2 separate regions of the Homo sapiens genome follow, and region 1 is linked to region 2. The links come from fine-mapping of genetic effects on gene expression. A gene starts in region 2. The other region holds a variant in brackets. All regions are shown on one strand. Distances are from middle to middle.

Region 1 (11,603 bases), 26 kb after region 2:
CTTAGCAACACTATTATTTCCACTGCATCAAAGGCCTGGGAGCCCTCCCCTGCCTATACTTTTGTCTCTCAGAGAAGAAGTAATAATTCACTCCATGTGCAAATGGAAAAACTGAGACCTGAAAGGTTGAGTGGTTTGTCCCAGGCCCCATAGTGAGTTAAAGGCATCAAAATCCCTTACACATGTATGGGGCTTTATAAACCATCAAGTGTGTAAAGGGTGTTGACATTTAGAAAATAACTGTGCCGAGTCTCCTAGGGATCTGGTACATGTATTTTGACTGCCAGTTTACGGATGGGAACGATGAGACTCAGAGAACTTAGATGAGCCCAAGATTGTACATTGAGTTTGTGGCAGAGTTGACGCTCAAACTCGAGCCCTCTGCTCTTTCCACCGCACACGCAGACCTCTCACCTGGGCCCTTCTAGACCCTCTCTGCAATTATTTTTTCCCCTCCATACAGGTAGATCTGTGAAGGTGGAGAGTCATGAGCCAGCAGGGACAGGGTTAAATTCTTCCTAAGCAACAGAGCTGGTTTTGAGCTGGGCACCTTCAGTGACCCCATTGTTGACCCCCTTCCCTCGGGTCAGGACTGCAGGCAGTGGGGGAAGGGAAGCACTGCAGGGAGCTCTAATGGCCCAATGCGGGCAGAGAGAGGGCCAGGAAGGGATGCTCATCTGTCTCCCTCTTTGGACAGAGATGAACAAAGATGCCGGTGGCTTTTTCAGTCTCCATAGAAAATCCCCAAGGCTCCCTTGGGGCGGGCTGCCATCAGCTCTTCCTGCACTCTTAATCACACCGTGGAGCACGGGCAGCTCCTGTAGACACAGCAAACCCTGTGATGTGTTGTTGGTTAAGTGGGAACTGGGATAATTTTTGCCAGTAAAGCACCAAATCAGAAAATGGAAGCATCAAATGAACCTTAGGGCTAGTGGGATTTTGGGGCTTGCCTGTCATTCATTCATTGAAAAGGAAAAGGATGGCTTGGGTGGCCCACAGAAGCCAGCATCTGTGACCTCAAATGGATGAGTCCCTGCAAACTGGGAAGGCTGCCCAGTTCCTCTTCCTCTTCCCAAGTGGCCCCCGTCCTGCCACTCCCTTCTATGAGCGCAGACCTTCTGGTTTAGAGCTTCAGTCTGGACCATTGTGCTGTGTCCTCTCCAGGCGGGGAGGGCATCAGGAGTAAACCTCCTTCCACGGCCCTGAGCCGTACAGTAAGTCTCCCAGGGTTGTACGGCAAGGCAGGGGCAGAGCTGTTCTGTAAACAGGCGTCAGTTCAGTTGCCTTGAAACCGCCAACTCTAAGATGGACATCCGAGGGGAAAGGATTTCCAGGAAAGTCGAGGAACTGATTTTAGGGGAAGACTAAATCTCTTTCTCTATCCCCATCTTCTTGTCGTCTGGGTCCCTTGAACTCCCTGCTGAGAAATCCTAAATACACCTTGTCTCTGGGTTGCGCATGGAAGCCTTTAATTGTTTCTAGAGGCAGTGAGGGAAGGCCTTCTAGTTGGTCGGGCAGGTCTGGCACTGTCTGGGTCTTGCTGCTTCTAGACACTTCAATTAGGGATGTTAATTATGGCCTTGTGAACACAGGCTCTCCCAAGGCAGCCGCTCTCCAGCCCTGCTGCCCCCATGTTGTCCCCTCACCAGTCAGTGAGGCTATGTTTATGGTCTCGCCTCTGTCCATCTGCAGATTAAAGATGCCCTGAAAGCATAACTTATTAGCAGTTTTTTGTTCTCTCCATCTTTTAAAAAATTGGATTAAAGTAGACATAATGTAAAATTTACAATTTGTAAATGTGTAGTTCAGAGGCATTAAGTCCATTCACATTGTTTTGCAACCATCACCACCATCTGTCCATGGAACTTTTTCATCTTCCCAAACTGAAACTCTGTTCCCATTAAGCAATAGCGTCCCCTTCCTCTCTCACTCCAGCCCTGTAACTCTATTCTACTTTCTGTCTCTATGAATTTAGCTGTTCTAAGTACCTCACATAAGTAGACACATACAATATTTGACCTTTTATGCCTGGCTTATTTCAGTTAACATAATGTCTTCAATATTTGTCTACATCGTAGATGTGTCAAGATTGCCTTCCAGCTTAGGGCTGATGATATTCCATTGCATGTATATATCATACTTTGTTGATTCATTCATCCATTGATGGACACTTGAGTTGTTTCCCATTTTGGTTGTTGTGAGTAATATTGCTATGAGTTTTGGGGGTATATCCCCAGAAGTGGAATTGCTGGATCATATGGTAATTCTATATCTAATTTCTTGAGGACCCGCCATCATATTTTTCTTTTCTTTTCTTTTTCTTTCTTTCGTTTTTTTTTTTTTTTTTTGCGACAGGGTCTCACTCTGTCTCCCAGGCTGGAGTACAGTGGCATGATCACAGCTCACTGCGGCATCAACCTCCTGGGCTCAAGCGATCCTCCCACCTCAGCCTCCCAAGTAGCTGAGACCACAGTGTATGCCACCATGCCCAGCTGATTTTTGTATTTATTTATTTATTTATTTTTGAGACAGAGTCTTGCTCTGTCGCCCAGGTTAGAGTACAGTGGTGGGTTGTCGGCTCACTGCAGCCTCCATCTCGTGGGCTCAAGCAATTCTCATGCATCAGTCTCCCAAGTAGCTGGGTTTACAGGCACCCGCCACCACACCTGGCTAATTTTTGTATTTTTAGTAGAGATGGGGTTTCACCATGTTGGCCAGGCTGGACTCGAACTCCTGACCTTGTGATCCACCCACCTCAGACTCCCAAAGTGCTGGGATTATATGCATGAGCCACCATGCCCAGCTAATTTTTGTATTTTCTGTAGAGATGAGGTTTTTCCATGTTGCCCAGGCTTCTATCTGTTTTTCACAGCAGCTATACCACTTTTCATTTTACATTCCCATCAGAAATTCTCTACATCCTTGCCAATTCTCCTCCTCCTCTTTCTTCTCTTTTTCTTCTTCTTTCTCCTTCTTTTTTTGATAATAGCCATCCTCTTGGGTATGAAGTGAAAATCCACTGTGCTTTTTATCTTTTAAGGGGGAAGTCAAGGCCTGAGAAACACTGATACGTGCCTCTGCATTGCAGAGCCCCTTGGGCCCAGGCTTTCTAGCCCCATCCTGGCTTCCATTCTCTGTCCTAAACCCCTTTGTCTCCAGTCCATCAAGAGAGGGCAGGGGCGAGGTCCACTGACTGTTAGGGGCCCTGCCTTCCCTCCTGTCACAGCAGCAGAGTGGCTGTGACCTGGCAGAGGTGTTGGGAGGGTGGATGTCCCTAGGGGTCAGGAGGAGGTTTCAGTAATGTGAAATTGGAAGAGTTGAATCATTTCAACCACGGGGCATGGGGATAAAGGAAATCATGATGCAGCCATAGAGTGGAAGATGTGCAGCCATTAAATATGGCTTTATGAATAATTTTTAATATCCAGTTTTTGGTAACATGAAAACTGCTGATGTGTACTATTAAGTGGGAGAAAATAAATATAAAAACTTGCTTATGAGGCCGGGCTCAGTGGCTTATTCCTGTAATCCCAGCACTTTGGGAGGCCGAGGTGGGTGGATCACCTGAGGTCGGGAGTTTGAGACCAGCCTGACCAACATGGAGAAACCCTGTCTCTACTAAAAATACAAAATTAGCTGGGCGTGGTGGCGCATGCCTGTAATCCCAGCTACTCGGGAGGCTGAGGCAGGAGAATCACTTGAACCCGGGAGGTAGAGGTTGCAGTGAGCCGAGATTGCGCCATTGCATTCCAGCCTGAATGCAACAAAAGCGAAACTCCGTCTCAAAAAAAAAAAAAAAGAAAAGAAAAGAAAAAAAAACTTGCTTATGAATGAAAAACAAAACCACCTTCAGAAAAAAAGATTTGATAGAAATAGGCCAAATTGTTGTCAATGGCCACCTCCTGGATGGATGTGAAATGGGTGATTTTTAAAATTGTTTTCTTATTTTTAAATTTTAATTTAAATTTATTTTTTGAGATAGGGTGTTGCTCTGTTGCCCAGGCTGGAGTGCAGTGGTGTGATCATGGCTCACTGCAGCCTCAACCTCAAGTGATCCTCTCATCTCAGCCTCCTTAGTAGCTGGGACTACAGGTGTGTGCCACCACACCTGGCTAATTTTTTCATATTTTTTGTGGAGATGGGATTTCACCATGTTGCCTAGGCTGATCTCAAACTCCTGAACTCAAGCAATCCACCCACCTCGACCTTCCAAAGTGCTGGGATTACAGATGTGAGTCACCATCGCCCAACCTGTTTTCTTTATGTTATTTAAAATTTTGCAGATTGGCTGAACACGGTGGCTCATGCCTGTAATCCCAGCACCTTGGGAGGCCAAGGCGGGCAGATCACCTGAGGTCAGGAGTTCGAAACTAGCCTGACCAACATGGAGAAACCCCATCTCTACTAAAAATACAAAATTAGCCGGGCGTGGAGGCGCATGCCTGTAATCCCAGCTACTCGGGAGGCTGAGGCAGGAGAATTGCTTGAACCGGGGAGGCAGAGAAGTTGTAGTGAGCTGAGATGGTGCCACTGCACTCCAGCCTGGGTGACAGAGCGAGACTCAAAAAAAAAAAAAATTTTGTTGTTGTTGTTGTTGTTGTTGCTGATTTTCTACAGTAAGCACACACTCCTTTTATATTTAGGAAAAAACTGATAAAATAAGAGTGACTACGACTATTCATTAGGCATATGTGTTGCCAGGGTCTACTGAACACTCAGCTCTGCTTGATGCTATTGAAAGTTCAGGAATGAATGCGAAGCTAACAGGGAGGTGTGGGGTTAGGTGGTGGGGAGGACTGGCCAGAACACAGAGGGGTGATGAATGTAAGGGGAGTCAGGGTCTGGGCAGCCTGGAGCCCTCCAGAATGCTGCCTTTGTTCATGAGAAGCCTCATTCATGGGGAAGATACCGTGGGTAGGACTCTGGCCTTGAGTCACCTTGTCTCTGCAAGTGGCGCAGGCAGGCTCCATTGAGCTCTTCACCCATGTTCACCTGGTCCCTTGGCATAGCTGGCAGGAGTGAGCGAAGCTTGTAGCCTGTGAAA[C/G]CAGGGGTTTTCCTGCCCCAGGTTGACTATTACTTCCCTTGCATCATCCGTACCAGGGCCAAGGGCCTGGTTCCCTTGACTTCCATTGTGGGAGCAGCACTGGCCCAGCAGAGGTGGGACAGTGGGGTTTCCAGGAGATAAACTTCCATGGCTCTTGGGACCTCTGACTAGTAGAAGAGAAGCCAGTATAATCCAACACTTAAAAGAAGAGACTCATTAGCCAGTCTCTGGGTTCAGTTTCTTGGTCACTACTCACTGGCTATGACCTTGGGCAATGGCTTAGCCTCCTTAGGCCTCTGTGTCCTCATAGTAGCTATTTCACAGGACTAATGAAGGAATTAAAAGGCTAAATCCTTATAGATTATGCTTAGCATGTAAGTAGTTGATTCCTATGGTCTGACTGAGAGGTGGATTCTGATGCTAGACTGCCTGGGCTCAAATCATGTTGGTGTCTCAGTGTCTTTTTCTGGCTTTTTTTTTTTTTTTTTTTTTTTGAGACAGGGTCTCTGTAGCTCAGGCTGAAGTGCAGTGGCATGATCATGGCTCACTGCAGCCCCAACCTCCTGTGCTCAAGCCATCCTCCCGAGTAGCTTGGGCTACAGGCATGCCTCACCACACCTGGCAAATTTTTGTATTTTTTGTTGAGATGGAGTTTCATCATGTTGCCCAGGCTGGTCTTGAACTCCTGGGCTCAAGCAGTCCTCCCACTTCGGCCTCCCAAAGTGCTGGGATTACAAGTGTGTGCCACTGCGCCCAGTCGGCATCTCAGGTTTTTCATCTGTAAAGTGGAGATGATAATATGATCTACTTCAGATGATTATTATGAAGATTAAATGAATTAATATAAGTAAAAGTGATTCGAACAGTGCTTGGCACATAGTAAATGCTCAATAAACGTTAGCCATAGGCTGGGCATGGTGGCTTATGCCTATAACCTCAGCATTTTGGGAGGCCAAGGCAGGAGGATAGCTTGAGGCCAGGAGTTCAAGACCAGTCTGGGCAACATAGCAAGACCCTGTCACTATAAAAAATGAATTAGCTGGGCATGGTGGCATGCACCTGTAGTTCCAGCTACTTGTGAGGCTGAGGTGGGAGGATTGCTTGAGGCTGGGAGGTTGAGAGGCTGTAGTGAGCTGTGATTGTGCCACTGTACTCCAGCCTGGGTGACAGAGTGAGACCCCATCTCTAAAAAGTAAAGTTAGCCATAATTGGGGTCTTTCACCACATACTAGTGTGACTCAGCCAGTTGTTTGTGGCTGGCAACTGCCAATTCATCTGATTGTCCCAAGAGCCTCAGTGGATTGGTCAGTGCCCATGACTCCCTTGCTAAATAGTCTTGAATGTCACCATTATTCATTACTATTATTAGTATTGTGGGTTCCACGTGTCAGGATCCCTTCCTGGGTTGTATTTCATCTTACCCCTTTGCCAAGTCTTGGTTGATGTGGTCCTGCCTCAGTTTCCAAAGGGTGCTGGTGATGGAAAGCGGGGTGCTGGGCAGATTGGGGTGAAAGCTGGCTGCTTTGGGGATTGTTTGATGAGCATTATAGTAGATTAAGCTGCTTCTCCCCTTCCTTCCCTGCCCTTATTGAAAAGGCGCCAAAGCCAGGAAAAACAAACAGCCACCCATAAATAAAGAGGACCATGAAATAACAAAATCGAAAAAGAAAACTTGCTTTAGTGGCGGGCTTGGCTGACGATAGGGTAGATAATGGGAGAGGAAACGCAGCCTTTGGAGAGAAAAAGAACGGAACGCGTTGTTCACTGGAAGAATGAATGCTGCCTGAGGAAGAGCTGCTAAACTGGGGTGTCCGATGAGCGAGCCTGTGTTAGGGGAGCTGGTGGTGATTAGGCTTACATGAGGCATGAGTGTCATTCCACCAAGAACCCCTGGGATGGGGGACACCTTAGGCTTAAGCGGGCTGTGCCAACGGGAGGCCGGTGTGCCAGTCTGGCCTAGAGCCTTGGCTGCCATGATCATAGAGCTGCTGCTCACCTCCTCAAGGGCTGGCCAAGCTGGGAGCTGGATGCTTGAATCTCTTAGGGAGCCCCTAGACCTTCTGTCAAGGTATATATTTTTTCTGGAGTGTTAGGGAGACAATCCCAGGGAGGAGAGGAGGAGGCCAAAGTTGTTTGCTGACTGTTTGCATTCAAGGCTGTGCTCCTGTCAACACTGCCTGGTGGCTTTCTGGGTGAATGAAATTTACTGACTTCTCTTCCTTTCTTGTACCACTTACCCATCTGGATCGTGGACCCATTTCTCCTGCCTCTGCAATGAGTTGGGTGCCTGAGGTGGGAAGGGGAGAGAAACCTTTCCTGAGCCCTTGGGATCCCAGGATGCTGTGTGGAAGTGCCCACTTTGGGAGTGGGCTGTGGGCTCACAGATGGGTAGAGGCTGATATTTGAAATGCATTTAAGAAGGGCCTTAGATGGCTGGGCGCGGTGGCTAACACCTATAATCCTAGCATTTTGGGAGGCTGAGACAGGAGGATCACGTGAGCCCAGCTGTTCAAACCAGCCTGGGCAACATAGCGAGATTCCCTCTTTATTTAAAAAAAAAAAAAAGTGGCAGGAGGCCTTGGAAACATACTGGTTTGGGGCTGAGTGGTCTGGCTGGTAGAGGTTTCCTGGAAACACAGTCCTTCATTCAGCCACCACAATACTAAGTGCCAATCTGCTTTGTGCCAGGCATTGGGCTAAGTATTTTCTATATAATAACTTATCAGTTCTCTAGCAAGCATAAGAGGTAGGTATTGTTAGCCCCCATTTCAGACAATGAATCTGAGGTGTAAAGAGGTTAAGTCTCAAGTATTCACTGGGCTACCTAGAGCCCAGCTGCTTCCCAATTTTCCACCCTTCACCTCCTAATCTAGATGACAATGGTAAAATGCCCATTACAGTTGTTCATCACGGCTGTGTGCCAGGCACTGGGCTTTGCCTGTGTTATCTCGTTTACTCTTTGAAACCCCACTAGTGAGTATATATTACTATTTGCCCCAGTTACAGATAAAGGCAGGAGGGTCATTTGAGCCCAGGAGTTCAGGACCAGCCTGGGCAACATGGTGAGGCTGAGAGAGTTAAACTAGTTGGCTAGTTAAGACGGATGCTGGGTTTGAACCAATGCTGCGTGTCTCCCAGAGCCTCATTTCACCATGTACTATGAGGGCTTAGTCTACATGGCTTAGACTTGTCACAAAGCAAAAGCCGATAATGCCCAGCCCACCCCAGTACTGGGAGAAGGAGTGTTTGGCAAAGGTGAGATTTCATCAGCCTGGCGGGTAAACATGGCTGTTTGCAGACTAGTTGCGCTTGTCCTTTCCGCTGTCTGTAGTCATCCCTATGGTCCCCACCTTCCTCTCCCTCTGGGGTTGGCAGGAGAACGCAAGGGTTAATGATATAGCACTTCACCCTTGTGGGCTCCAGAGGAAATGAGGGAGCTCATGAGTTCTGCAGAGCTTTTGTGTCATCAGCCGGGGAAGGGAAGGCACCGTGGCTTGGCCAGATAAGCGGTGGCGCTGCGAATGTGGGGCTTCCTTGGCAGATTTGTAGCCTTTCCGCCTGTTTGCACTGTGGGGCACCTGCTGGGGCTTCCAGGGTGGTTGGGGACATCAACAGGGCATTCAGAAAACTGATAACCTAGGCTAGGGAGGGAGACCTACATGGAGCAGATGGAGGAGGAAGAGGGTGGCGGGCCCTGGTGTTCTGCAGGTGCATGTCTTCTGCTTGTTTGACCATGTGGGGGAAGGGGGTGGCGGTGGGTCAGGGAGCAAACATTTTTTTGATTTTCACAAACACCATCATATTCAGTCTTCTCTATCTCTATGGGGTAGGTGTTATTTGTTCCCATTTTAGAGATAGAGAAACTGAAACTTCCCCATGGCCACACATCTAGTGGTATATAATAGAGCCAGTCTTCAGACACAGGTCCATGTGACAAAGTCCTTTTTCCATTAGCCACACCAGGATGCCTCCCAGCAATGCTGGGTCATCACACCCACCCACCTGCCTCCGGAAGAGCTGGGCTGGCTGGGGAGGAGAATAGGGTGTGAGTCCTTCTCCCCCTTGCCCTGGGGGCAGGGAGGGAGAGGGACTCCTTCCTGCTTTAGGGCTCTTTCTCCTTACCTCCTTCCCTGAACATATATTCTGTACCAGATTCTGTAATTATACCTTATCTCTTACTCACAAAATAGTTCTTGGAATCTCTATTTTACACATGAAGAAATGGGGGTTTTGAGAGGTGAAGTCTTTCCCCCAACTTGCCAGAGCTGCCTGGGTTTCTTTTGACTAAGTTTTCCTTGGCTATGACTCAAGTCAGAAACAACTGCAATCCTGTAAGAGGTGAAGACAGTGGCCATTCTATCTCTGCTGGACCAGAGCCTGTTATTTTGCACCGAGGAGAGTGGCCAGGGCATCAGCTGATAAATGAAAGGATGTGGATTTAGACATCAGCGAGGCCTGAGTTCAAATGCTACTTCTGCTGGGCCCTCAGTAGGACGTTCTAGCCCCCGAGCCTTAGTCTTTGTAGTGTTCTTGTGAGGATTAAGCAGGAATGTGAATGAAGAGCCTTTCACTTAGTGCTTGCAGCCAAGTAAGTGCTGTAGCATTGCATGCTTGCTTTTTGCCTCCCATTCCTTTGGTCAGTATTCAGGGCTATCCCCCAAGGGGCCTTTGACATGGCCAGTCAGCCTCAGCTGCACAATTTCTGCATCTCCCAGCCCTAGGCTGGGCACTGTCCCTGCAGGAAGCCAGATGTGCTCACCTGTCCAGGACACAGGCTTGGCCTTGCCATTGGGAAACAAGGATGAGGCCTACCCCTGCCTTCTAGCACTGTTGGGGTGCAGGAGAACCTGGAGACAGGCTTGGGTTCTAGAGGCAGGAAGGCCTCCAGAGAAGGGCCTCCTAGAGACACTGTTGACCTCTTCTCGGTTTGGGACCTTCTGGAGGCACACATCACACTGGGAGCCTCAATGGCGCTTTCAAGCAGTCCCATCTGTCTCTTTCTCGACCCACTCACTGGGTTGGGAGAAGACTCAGGTGCCTCTGAGGCCTGAGGACCAGGTGGGAACATCACAGCTACAGTCTCTCCCTGGCCACTGTTTTCCTTTGTGCCCTTGGGCCAGGGTCAGCTGAGTCCCGGCAGCCACAGAAGCTCAGGCTGGACTGTGATTCTGTACCTGAGGTGCTGTGGGGAAGTGCCTCTTCTCCCATGCTTGGGAGTTGACCCAGCCTCTGTCTGATGTTGGCCACTCTACCAGGTGAATGCCACCCTGACCAGCCTGGAAACAGCCGAGGGAGTGTTGGCTGTGGCCCCCCTGAGCTGGGCTAGACCAGACCGGCCGTGCCCTGGATCTGATACCCCCCAGGGCTCACAGAGGCTGGAAAGGGTGAGAGGGACTCGCAGGAAAGCTTTGTCCCAAGCCTGCAGCCAGTCCAGCTCCCAGCTCTGAGTAAACATTAGAGATAGGATCGGGTGTAGCCAGGAAGGGTGGCAGGGTGTGGTCTGTGAGAAGAATGGCAGGATGTGGCACCGGGGCACTGTTCTGGGCACCCACGCCTTGGCCTATTGTTTAGGGCAGCCTGAGGTTCTCAGCTCTCTGGGGGCTTTCAGAGGAAGTGGCATTCCCCTGGGACTCAAGCCCTGCCCCACCCCTGCTGCATGGATCTCTTTCCCTGGTGATGCCCCTTGGCACCACCCACTCAGAGCAAGCTTGGGAGTGGGAGCCAGCAGTGGAGGGGGATTAGTGTGTGCCCAGCGGGGAAGTGTAGCCATTGGCCCTCTCAGAGGGTCTGCCTGTCTGTTCAGGCTTCCTGTACCCCAGGGTCTGAGTCACCCGTCATGCTACGATGACTGGAATTTATCTCTATCTTTATCTTCATCTAGATATTTTTTGTAGGGTGGGGGAAGGCTGTCGTTGTGGAGGGAGGAAGGACTGACAGTAAAAACTCCTTTGATTCCAATCCAACAGGGTCAGTTGTTGACTGGTTAGAAGAGGAAGTGGCTGGTGATTTGTTTTGGGCAGAAAGGGGCTAGGTTTGTGTGCGCCTGTGGGTTGGTGGGGTTCAGAGGGGCCGTGACAGGGCTGGTTGTGGGGAGGAGAGAGGAAGAGGATCGGCACCTGCAGCGGGCTTTGTCATATAAGCGCCATGCTTTGAGCCACTGTCCCTCCATGGAGGCGGGTGCCTCTCTATACCTTGTCTCAGGTGCTGGATTTGGGGGCCTCGGGGCCTGGTAGGCACAAGCTGAGACTCAAGGCTCTGCATGTCAAGGGCGAAGATGGCTGGAGCCCTCTCCTTAGAGGTCTTCACTTCTTAAGGATGCTCACTTGGGTGAGATAAGACCACAGAGGAAGAAGAATGGAAGAGGGATTGTGAGGTGGGTTCCTGAGAAGGAAGGGAGGGCAGAGCAGAGATGCCGCTTAGCGCCCCAGCTGGCTGAAGGCCTCTGACTCTGTATAATCTCTTTTTTTTTTGAGACAGAGTCTCCCTCAGTCACCCAGGCTGGAGTGCAGCAGTGCAATCTTGGCTCACTGCAACCTCCGCCTCCTGGGTTTGAGCGATT
Region 2 (11,603 bases):
TCTTTTATTATCTCTCCCAAGGGCATTTGCATTTTACACCTTGTCTCTAACCTCGTAGGTTAAAGGGAAAATCAGAAACCTAGCACACCTGGGCACCGCAACCCCCACCTGTGTTTCAGGCTATGGCCACACACAAATCAGATAGGAGCCCTCGGAGCCCCCACTCCCTGAAGCCAAGCAGAGTCCTTCCTTCAGCAGGTATTCTGGAAATTAAATGGAGACTAGAGCAGACAAGGTCTCCCCTCACAGAGCCTATAGTCTAAAGGGAAGCAGGAAAAATACAAGAGGCCAGGCACGGTGGCTCACGCCTGTAATCCCAGCACTTTGGGAGGCCGAGGTGGGTGAATCATTTGAGGCCAGGAGTTTAAGACCAGCCTGGCCAACATGGTGAAACTCCATCTTTACTAAAAGTACAAAAAATTAGCCAGGTGGTAGTGGCGTGCGCCTGTAATTCCAGCTACTTGGGAGGCTAAGGCAGGAGAATTGCTTGAGCCCAGGAGGCGGAGGTTGTGGTAAATAGAGATCGCACCACTGCATTCCAGCCAGAGTGACAGAGCGAGACTCTGTCTCCAAAAAAAGAAAAAAAACACAAGAAAACAGAAAACAGATAAAACAAGTGCAATTGTGGTAAGTGCTATGAAAGAAGCAAACAGGGCTGAGAAACAGAATAAAGGTGGGATGGGGTAGAGGATGATTTTATATGGGAGGAAAGGGGAAGATGAGAGAAGAGACATTTTTGTTGAGACAAGAGGATGAAAAGGTGCCCACTCTAGGAAGAGGAGGGTTTGGGGAAGAACTTAACAGGTGTAAAGATTTTTATCGGGTTTGAAGTCTAGTTCAAGGCAGATCTTTCAATATGGGGATCTGATTGGGACTGGGCAAAATTTATAACAGTTTAGGATTGGAGGACATGGTGAAGGGAGGGTCTTGAAGAATAAACAATTGTTTGATAAGCTACTGGTTTGCCCAGTTAAGCAAACTATTGTCCCGAGAAGGGGGCTGTTTGAGCAGTCTATTGTTCAGATAAATTGATTTTCAGGAAGTTCCTGAAGGAAATAATGAAGTTATTTACCAGTTTACAGTCTTATCTTCCTGGGGAAGAAATTTCTGGAACAAATATTAAAGTCATGCAGATGTAGGCAGCCTCAGTGAAATGATGTCACCGCAGGTGAGGCCGTTGTAGTCTGGCTGAGTGGTAGGTAATTGTGGCCTGGACTAGGGTGGGGTGGTAAAGACAGGAATGGATGGATTGGGATATATTTTTGGAGATAGGCCAGTGACTCACTAAATTGATTAGATGAGCGAGAAACAATCACAGATGATGGCTAGGTTTTTGACTTGAGCCATTAGGTAGGTGGTAGTACCATTTACTGGATGGGAAAGAAGATGGTACTGGGTTGGGGATGATGGTTAAAGGTTCAATGTTAGGGTTAGGATGTGGAAGCCATCCTCACAGGGTTAGCAAGTATTACATGCTAGGTTCTGGGCGGAAATACTGTTATAATTTAACCTTAATAGGCAAGTGCGGTGGCTCACACCTGTAATCCCAGCACTTTGGGAGGCCGAGGCGAGAGGATCACTTGAGCCCAGGAGTTTGAGATTAGCCTGGGCAACATAGCAAGATCTTGTCTCTACACAAAATGAAAAACAATTAGCCAGGCAGGGTGGCTCATGCCTGTGTATGTAGTCCCAGCTACTTGGGAGGCTGAGGTGGAAGGATCACTTGAGCCCAGGAGGTTGAGGCTGCAGTGAGCCGTGACTTCACCACTGCACTCCAGCCTGGGTGACAGCAAGACCGTGTCTCAAAAAAGAAAGAAAGAAAGAAAAAGCATTAATTAGGTTGCACTTTGGCGCACTTCCTTGTTGCTAAAAGTTCCATAGAACCAGATACTGACCATTTGCATCCCCATTTTTCCTATAGATAGGATTTCTGATGTTAGAATCATAAGGCTTTTGTTGAAGAATCGATTTGCATCCCCATTGTTCCTATAGATAGGATCACTGACGTTGGAATCATAAGGCTTTTGTTTAAGATTTGCTTAAGATGTTTTTAGCTCTTGAGTTCCAGCAGAATGGCTGATGCCACCAGTTTGAAGACCCTCACAGAGGAGCGTAATCAGCATGAGAATGCAGTTTCTTCATCTCCCTGTCCCGTGACTCTGCGTCACGGGACATCCACAGTGATCCCCACACCTCGGCCCACTCCAAACCCCTTAAAATCCCTAGCCCCCAACTCTTCGGAGAAGCAGATTTGAGGTTTTCTCTCCTCTCCTTGTTCAGCCTTGCATTTAAAATTCTTTTTCTGTTGCAACCCTCGGTGTTGGTGTATTGACTTGCAGGCCCTCAGGCAATGGACCCATTACGGTTACAATGTCTGTGAGGCCCTGGGGTAGAAACATCAAGTGTGTGGTTGGATAATAGTCTTGGATATTAAATAATTGGGAGAATCATCACCACATAGTTGGTACTTAAAGCTATGGAAAAGGACAAAATTTTACCTAGGGAGATGTGGTAGGAGGAAAATAGGGTGTAGGAGAGAGCCCACAGGGAATGCCCACCTGGAGACCAGGATGGAGGAGGGAACATAAAAAAGGGTGGCTGGGAAAGAGCAGCCAGTGAGGTGGGAGGACTCAAGAAAGTGTGGACTCATGAAGTGAGTGTTTCAAGGAGTGGCTGACTGGGTTACATCATGTAAATTTGATAGTTGTTCCTGGGAAATGGTGCAGTAGTAGAGAAAATCTAGAATCTTCAGTCAGATAGCTTCCTGTCTCACTAATTGGAGCTTCATTTTTCTTATCTCTAAAATGGGATTCCAGGTACTCAGGGACTTGCAAAGAGATGGAATTAAATTAAATTAAAAAATAAGATAAAATGGGGATAATGACACCAACATCACAGAACTGGGATAAGGTACAAATAGATACCATATAGGAAAACAGTATTGTGCCTAAGACCCAGTAGGGAGACACTTTATATCTTAATTTGGTGGCAGTGAGTGGAAGGGCTGATCTTTGCTCTTCCTCTCTTAATCTGCTGTTGCTAAGGACAGCTGCAGGGAGGTACCCACAATCAAGTTGCCCCCCTGAAGATGATCAGGGGCCAGAGAAAAACAACCAGATATATGGAAAACACAGGCATGTTGTCTGGGAGGAGGAAAGTCTTGGTGGCACTTGGGTACCCTTTTTTTTTTTTTTTTTTTTAGACAGAGTTTCCCTCTTGTTGCCCAGGCTGGAGTGCAGTGGCATGATCTCAGCTCACCACAACCTCCGCCTCCCGGGGTTCAAGCAATTCTCCTGCCTCAGCCTCCTGATTAGCTGGGATTACAGGCATGAGCCACCACGCCCGGCTAATTTTGTATTTTTAGTAGAGATGGGGTTTCTCCATGTTGGTCAGGCTGGTCCCAAACTCCCGACCTCAGGTGATCCTCCTGCCTCAGACTCCCAAAGTGCTGGGATTACAGGCGCGAGCCACCGCGCCCGGCAATTTGGGTAACCCTTTCATGATTTCTAGGATGGCTTCATCCATAGTTATCCAAACATCAAGCCTTTAATGTTGGCTTCTCCCACTCTCTTACACCCACCTGTTTTCTCCTTTCCATTCCCCCTACTCCCAGCTTAGCTCAGGCCTGCATCATTTTTACCCTGGCCACTGCCATTGTCTGGTCACTGGCCTCCTTCCTACCTCCAGCTAGATTGATGCCATCTGAGACCTTGCTTAGAATCCTTCAGTGGCTCCCCATTTCCTTCCATCAACAAGTATTGATCAATAAGTATTTATGAAGGGCCTGCTCTTTCCCAATCTCTGGCTAGGCACACTGGAGAGATACATCCCTGCCCTTGTGGAGCTTACAGTCCAGGGCGGAGACAGACAAATGAATGGTTACCATATTATTTACAAATGGGGTTTTTCCAGAGCCCACAGATGGGGCACCTGGCCCAGATATGGCCATCAAGAAAGGCTTCAGGGAAAGTTGATGTCTAGGCTGAGACCTAAAAGATGAATAAAAGGAGTTAGCCAGGCAAAGCAGTGGGCAAGGATGAGCCCTTAGAAGGCCTTCAGAGCCTTGCTGACCATCACCTTTGAACACATGCTGGCCACCCACACTGTGGGCATAGACTTATTAGTAGGTCCATGATTGTCACTCCTTTAATCTGCCCTACACCCACAGGTCCTTCCAAGACCCATTTCAGATGCCACCTCCCCCAAGAAGTTCCAGTCCCCATATCCCAGTGTCTTTGGTGGCCCTGTGCCCATTTGCCTGCCCTATCTTAGCCCTCTCCACTTCACTGCAATGGTATATTCACCCATTCCTTTACAAAATCAGAATCCAGAAAGGGCAGGACACCGTCTCATTTGTCTTCGTGTCCCCAGCACCCCGGTAAGCCAGGCATAGGTAGACTTTTTTTTTTTTTTTTTTTTGAGACAGAGTCTTACTCTGTCACCCAGGCTAGAGTGCAGTGGTGCGATCTCCACTCACTGCAACCTCTGCCTCCTGGGTTCAAGCAATTCTTCTGCCTCAGCCTCTTGAGTAGTTGGAATTACAGGCATGCACCACCACACCCGGCTAATTTTTGTATTTTTAGTAGAGAGGGGTTTTCACCATGTTGGCCAGGCTGGTCTCGAACTCCCAACCTCAGGTGATCTGCTGCCTTGGCCTCCCAAAGTGCTGGGATTACAGGCGTGAGCCACTGCGCCCGGTCATATGTAGACATTTGATAAATACGTTGAATGAAAGGAAACCAACTCTCCATTCTCCCCCACCCTCCCATATAATGGGACAGGAGAAAATAAGATTTATTTGAGAGGCTGCAAATGACAGGATTAGGGAGTGGTTGGAGATATCAGGAATCCGTCTAGCTACAGGTGAGATCAGGTTTTGTTTTTTTTGAGACGGAGTCTCGCCCTGTCGCCCAGGCAGGAGTGAGTGCAATGGCGCGATCTCGGCCCACTGCAACCTCCCACTCCCGGGTTCAAGCGATTCTCCTGCCTCAGCCTCCCGAGTAGGGGGTTACAGGCGCGCCACCACGCCCGGCTAATTTTTTGTATTTTTAGTAGAGACGGGGTTTCACCGTGTTAGCCAGGATTGTCTCCATCTCCTGACCTCGTGATCCGCCCCCGTCGGCCTCCCAAAGTGCTGGGATTACAGGCGTGAGCCACCGCGCCCGGCAGAGATCAGGTTCTTAAGGGAAGTCCGGAGAAATGGGGTTTTTAAAAAACCCGAGTCCAGGCTATCTGTTTGGAGGGGTTGGGAGGCTTGGAGCTGGACCAATAACTTCTTAGGTCTTGCTTTAAGGAGTGAAGATTCTCTGTAGCGACCCTCATACCTGGGCAGTGGGAGCGGGCAGAATCCTTCTTTCTTCTCTTCTCTACACCCCCTCACTCCACCCCCACCCTTCCCCGCCGCCCGTAAACCTTAGCTTTCCCCTTTCCAACAGAGGTTTCCAGCTGTTGATGCCTGGATGGACCCGGCTGCAGGGAGGAGGAGGAAACTCTCTGTCCCTCCCTTCTTCTGCAAGTCCCCACCCTCCCTCCCTCCTCCCCCTGCGCGCTCTCGGTCTCCCTCCCTCTTTCTCCTCTAGGCTGTCCAGTCGCCTCGCAGCAGCGAGCCGCGAGCGCCCTTCTCCAGTCCCGGCTTGGAACTGAACTGTGTGAGCACGGGTCCTGGAACCCGGGCCCAGAACCGGCGAGCCCAGGTCTGAGCCCAGAGCTCAGCGGTCAGCCTCGTAGGCCCTGACTCGGAATCGAGCCGAGGCGCTGAGGTTGGAGCCGGAGAGCGTGAGAGCCGAAGAGCAGGGAGGGCGGGCCGGCTGCGCGTCCGACGAGTCGCAGAGCAGGACCGCGGAAGGCAGGGAGACGGCCGCAAGCCCAGGGCAGAGGGCAGAGGGCAGAGAGCGGCCTGGCTCGGCGGAGAGGGCGCCGCCCGGCCGGAACCAAGCTCGCCGCCCGGGACGGCGGGCCCCGTGGGGCGCGGACCCAGGGTGGCCGTGGGTCCGCAGCGACTCCCCGGCCGACGGCGGGGGGCGTGCCCCCTCCCAGCCCAGCCTCCCCAACCCGGCCCGCCCGCCGCGTCGCGGGGGCATGTGAGCGGGAAGCCTAGGCTGCCAGCCGCGAGGACCGCACGGAGGAGGAGCAGGAGCGCGGAGCCGCGAGCCCCGAGCCCCGAGCCCGGCGCCTGGCTGAGTAGTAAGTGCACCCCTCCCCGCCATGATCGCGCCGTCGCGCCCATTTCCCCAGCTCTCTGAAGTTTGACACTTGCGCCCCTACGTTTCTGGGCACCCACCGGCTCTCTTCCCTGCGAGTTTCCACCCTGTGCAAAGTTTTTCGAGGAGAGACGGACCCTCACCTACCCCCAACAACGCTGGGCAGTGGCGGCTCCTCCCTGGCCGACTTGGGTCCTTGTGGAGAGGGATGGCAGCCTCTAAGGCAGTGCGTGGCTGTGTGTGTGTTTGTGTGTGTGTGTGTGTGTGTGTGTACGCGCGCGCGCGCGCGCGTTCACCACGCGGGTCGAGCTTAGGGTGCACCCCCAACCCGCTCCTCGCCGACCGCAGAGGACTAGGTCTTTCTCATCAGCCCGACTATGCGCCTAGTTTAAGGATTTCTCAGCGGGAAGCCGAAGCGACCTGCGCGCGTCCTGCGTGGGGCTCAGGTGCCTGCGACGAGGCGCAGAGCTCCTCCACCATGGTTGCGTGGGGTGCTGGGGGACAGACGCGCTCCCCTTGCCACGGTTTCAGGGTCGTTCCCCAGCGGACCAGACCAGCGCGGCATCCTGTTTGTTTTCTGCTCCGGCTGCTCCTGTCCCACCCCCACCCCCACCGCAGGCTGCTTCTTGCTACCCCCACCTCCCGCCCTGGGATATCGTAGGTGAGCCTTTTCATCCCGATTCCGCTGCAAACGCTGATCGCGCCTAGGGGTAGGGAGATGCGGAGCGGGTAGTCGTTCAGTTCCCAGCGGCTCGCCATTGTTTTCCCACCCCGCGCGTTCCGTACGTAAACACACACGCACACACAAGGTTGTGTGTGTGCGCCGGCTCTGGCTGCTTCCCGTCCCCAGGCGCGCAGGGATCGCCCGCGGGATTCGCTCAGCTGCCCGCATGGGTCTTCAGGCTGGAGGCGCTCCAGGACTTAACTGGAGCTGGAGAGGACAAGAGACGTGGGGGTTGCCGGACAGTACCGGGCGGGGCGGTGAGCCGGGCCTGGGCGGGAAGTGAATTTTGAACTTCAGCCCTGGACCTTTCCGGGAGGACCCCGAGCGCTGGAGCGGCGGCTCCCGCCCTGGAGGGCCCGCGGCAGCTGCAAAGACTCCGCTGGCGCTCTTGGCAGCCGCCTCGGTGACAGAGGCTTGGAGGAAGCCGAAGAGTTTTCCTGGGAAGTTTGCTTTGACTCTCTGGGAATTTCCGGGCAGGACGCCTCGGCGCTGGCGCTGGCGCTGGCGCTGGTGAAGGGGTCTGGCCAAAGACGGCCAGAGACGATGCTGCTGGCTCTTGACCACTAGGCTGTACTTGGCTCTCAGCAGTCCAAGTAGGTGGGTCTCTACCTCCCGGAGTTCATGCCTTCCAAACCAGTATCCCCCAAAGGATCACGACATGCCGGTTTCAAAGATGGGTGCATAACTCTGCTCGTTTTGGAGTCCAGGGAGGCAAGCTCGGTTCCAGCCGGGCGGCGCTCTCCGTCGAGCCAGGCCGCTCTCTGCCCTCTGCTCTCTGCCCTGGGCGTGGGGCTGTCTCCCTGCCTACCGCGGTTGTGCTTTCGGACTCGTCCGACGCGGCGCCAGCCCGCTACCTCCCGCTCTCCCTCTCCCCCGCTCCCTGGCTCCCCGGCTCCCTGACTCCGTAATCTGCGCCTCGGCGCAGTTGCGAGTCAGGGCCTGAGGCTGACCCCTGTTTCCACTGTGCTTCATTAGAAAGCGCTTCACAAGATGCTGGGATTCAGCACATTTGGATTCCAGTTCCCCATCGATGAGCAGCGTGGGTTTGGACTTCCCCGCATGCGAAATGGGCAGAGTTATGCACCCAACTTTGAAACTGGCATGTCGTGATCGTTTGGGGGATACTGGTTTGGAAGGCATGATCTCCAGGAGGGTAGGGACCCACCTACCTCTGGATCATTAAGGGCCAAATATAGCCTAGTGGTTAAGAGTCCTGGAGCTGGAGTTAGATCCCGGATGCCACTGGCGGTGTGACTCTGGGCAATTTAACTTAACCTCTGTGCCTCAGTTTCCTCAGCCATAAAATAGGGTTAATATGAACGCTTCATGGGGTTGTCTTGAGGATTAAAAGACTTAATAAAGTGAAACTGAGAACAGTGCCTGGCACATAATAAGTGCTAGGTAAATATGAGCTATTATTGCCATTATTACTTAACTGACCTTGTACAGAGCCCAGAAGAGCACTTGGTGATTGTGCTCAACTAATCAATTATAACATTGCCCACTTCTGGAGAGGAGGAGATCTTGTACTCTCTCCCACCCTTGCCTGATTCCAGCCCCTCAGATCAAACGTATCCTTCTTACTCCTTGTCTAGTGCCATCTTCTCGAGTCTTTTTTCTTTTTCTTGTTTCCTTCCTTTCTCCCTCCCTTCACAACTTTTGTGAAAGCATTTCATTCCCTCCTTTCCTCATTCTTAAAAATCAATCTTGGCTCAACTGCAGTGTTCTCTCCATGGAAATCAGGTCCCAGGAAGGAATTGTCTCCAAAAGGGTGTCCCTTGAGCGTCCTCAGCCTGGGCTGCTGGATCAGGATTGGATGTGCATTTGTGTCTCTGGGGCAGGGTGAATTTCCAGAGCAAAGAGCCTGTCAGGTGTCTGGGGCCCAGGGGAAGAGTCAGGTGGAATGGGCTGGGACTGTCCCAGGAGGAGCCCTGCTCCCTGGGTAGTGTCTGTGTCTCCTGCTGCTGGGCTCACTTGGGAACCTGGAATAGCACAGCTGCTTGGGTAGACTGGATGTGGGATTTGGGGTGAGGGGCAAAAGTGTCACCTCCAACTTTCCACTTGCAGTTGGAGGATTTTCTAGGAATTTGGGTTTGTCACAAGTTCCTTGTCTGATTCAGGACTCTGCAAATGCATAGCACAGGTAAGGGGCGAGCTGAGCAACCAGGAGGAAGAACAGGGTGCTGCTGCCCAGCCACACTGCCTTGGACAACAGGCTCCTGTCCTCCTTTCTCAGACCCTCCAACCTCCACCCCAGGCATGGGGGAGGATGGCCAGAAGGTTGCTTCTTCATGTTGGAGATCCTGCAATTGGCAGTTTTTAGTCATTATGACAACTGGCACTGCAGTCACCCCATTCATTCCTTCAACAGAAATTGTTGACCACCTGCTATGTGCCAGGGCCTGTGCTACGCAGTGGGATAACAGGGGAGAACAAGACAGGCAGCGTGCCTGCCTTCAAAGAGGCTTCTTTCTATTGTGGGGAGACAGACAGTAAATACTTTTAAGTAACCAAGACTATCAGATTATGACATGCAATGGGAAAGAAATACCACAGGGTGATGTGATAGAAAACATATGTAGGTCAGGCAGTGGTGGCCCTAGATTGGGAGGCCAGTGAAGGCCACCCTGGGGGAGAGGATAGCTCAGCCCAGGCCTTGAAGGCTGAGGAGCCAGCTGCATAAAGACCTGGAGACAGGGGATTGCAGGTAGAGGGAATAGCAAATGAAAGCCCCTGAGGCCAGAACAGGGGCAACAGCTATGTGGCTGGAGAGGAGAGACTGGAGAAATCAGAGGAGAGCCAAAGCCTGGTAATACTGGTTAGAAGCCTGGATTTTATTGCAGGCGATGCATCCATCAGAGAGTTTTAAGTGGGGGAGTGACATGATCTGCTCTATGATTTTAAAAGATTATTTGGGACACAAGAAACGGTAATCATAGTTGCCCCAAGGGAGGGAAATGGTGGCTGAGGGATGGGATGGAGAAAAGATTGTTTTTGCTGTAGACCCTTTTGTCCTTTCTGAATTTAGTACCAGGTGGGTATACAAACCATCCCCCAAAACCTCCCAAAAACGTGGTTAACAAAGAACAGTTTATAACCTGGAAAATTACATAAGAAGTGAAAAAATCAGGATATAAAACTACAGAGTACAATCTTAATCTTGTACAGAGAATTGTAAGTATACACATGGCTATCATGCACACACGCAAGGACAGAATCTGGGAGGATGCATCAGAATATTTACAGAGGTTAGCTCTGGATACTGGACGTATGGATGGTTTTAATTTCTTTCTTTATCTTCCATTTGTTTTTTCACTTTTCTACAATGGTCGTGAATTACTTTTGTTTGTTTGTTTGCTTGTTTGTTTGTTTGTTTTGAGATAGACTCTTACTCTGTCGCCCAGACTGGAGTGCAGTGGTGTGATCTTGGCTCACTGCAACCTCCACCTCCTGAGTTCAAGCAATTCTCCTGCCTCAGCCTCCCGAGTAACTGGGACTACAGGTGTGTGCCACCACACCTGGCTAATTTTTTTGTATTTTTAGTAGAGACGGCGTTTCACCGTGTTGGTTTGGCTGGTCTCGAACTCCTGACCTCAAATTATCCCGCCCTCCTCGGCCTCTCAAAGTGCTGGGATTACAGGCATGAGCCACTGCCCCCGGCCAATACCTTCCTCTTAGAACTGTTGGGAGGCTAATGGCTGATGATGTCTGCGGCAGCAGTGCTCCATGAATGGTAAGGGCTCTGGGGTTTTCTGTTGCCAGACAAGTGTCGGTTGAGCTAGGCCTATTCCACCAAGGGATCTAGGTGTCCTTGCCCTTGAGAGGCTGACACTGGATTCTACAAAGATTTTCTCCTCTCTGGGGGTGCTTTGAGATCGGTCCTTATTGGGCAGCTCCCCTGGGTAAGTCTCCAGGAAGCTGACACCACCGGAAAAAGTGGAATTCAAATGCAGCTGTGCTCCTGAGCCCCCTCCCCCAGCCACATTCAGGGGTGAAGCTGAGTGTTTGAAAAGGGCTCTGTGCTGGGAGGGCCGGCCAGGCACACAGTAAATCGTGCTTTGAATGGGAGTTATTTTTGTGCCCAGTGTTTGCTTAAGAGGGCTCGCTCCTGCCTGAACTCGTTGCGGTCCTCACCCTTTGCTAGTCCCCTTTCTGGAACCCGGATGTGTCAGCCAGGGAGGCCATCACAGTGCCTTTTACCAGATGGGGAACTAGACCCATGGAGGATTGCTTTCCCTCTCCTGTCAGCTCCCTGCCCCGAAGCAGGAAGGCATGCTCTAGATGGTGGTCTTTGCCTCGGTGACTACCCCCCTTTTGACTGGCCCTTCCTTAGTTCTTGGGAAGACTTGATTCAGAGATTGCTATAGGCCAGCTCAGCAGGGTTCCTCCGACCTCTGTCAGCTTCTCTGATAAAGAGTGACTGCTTTTTAAAAAATGCAAATACTTTCTCTGAGGAGCAGAGATATGGTAGTTCCCTCCTAAGAGCACTTGCTGTATGCCATGGACCCAGCTTAAAGCCCCATGGTGATGAAGCCTTTGCAGCTCCCCTAGGAAAAGATTTCTGGGCCGGGCACGGTGGCTCACGCCTGTAATCCCAGCAGTTTGGGAGGCCAAGGCGGGCGGATCACGAGGTCAGGAGATCGAGACCATCCTGGCTAAGACGGTGAAACCCTGTCTCT

The links. PIP is the estimated chance that this variant, and not a neighbour inherited with it, causes the effect.
Region 1: its variant is fine-mapped to the expression of SOX13 in whole blood (TOPMed, PIP 0.94).

Annotation. Positions count from the first base shown.
Region 1 is chr1:204,093,910-204,105,512 of GRCh38, forward strand. All of the region lies in intron 1 of SOX13 (SRY-box transcription factor 13), which reads left to right. Among named protein-coding and RNA genes, the nearest start is that of SOX13, 27 kb to the left of the region's middle. The variant C/G (reference allele first, on the strand shown) is at 5,045.
Region 2 is chr1:204,067,529-204,079,131 of GRCh38, forward strand. SOX13 (SRY-box transcription factor 13) reads left to right here and starts at 5,587. Exons shown (of 14, transcript NM_005686.3): 1 at 5,587-6,183. RefSeq lists enhancers at 1,139-1,640, 6,266-6,958, 7,653-8,344, 9,972-10,900, 10,901-11,603.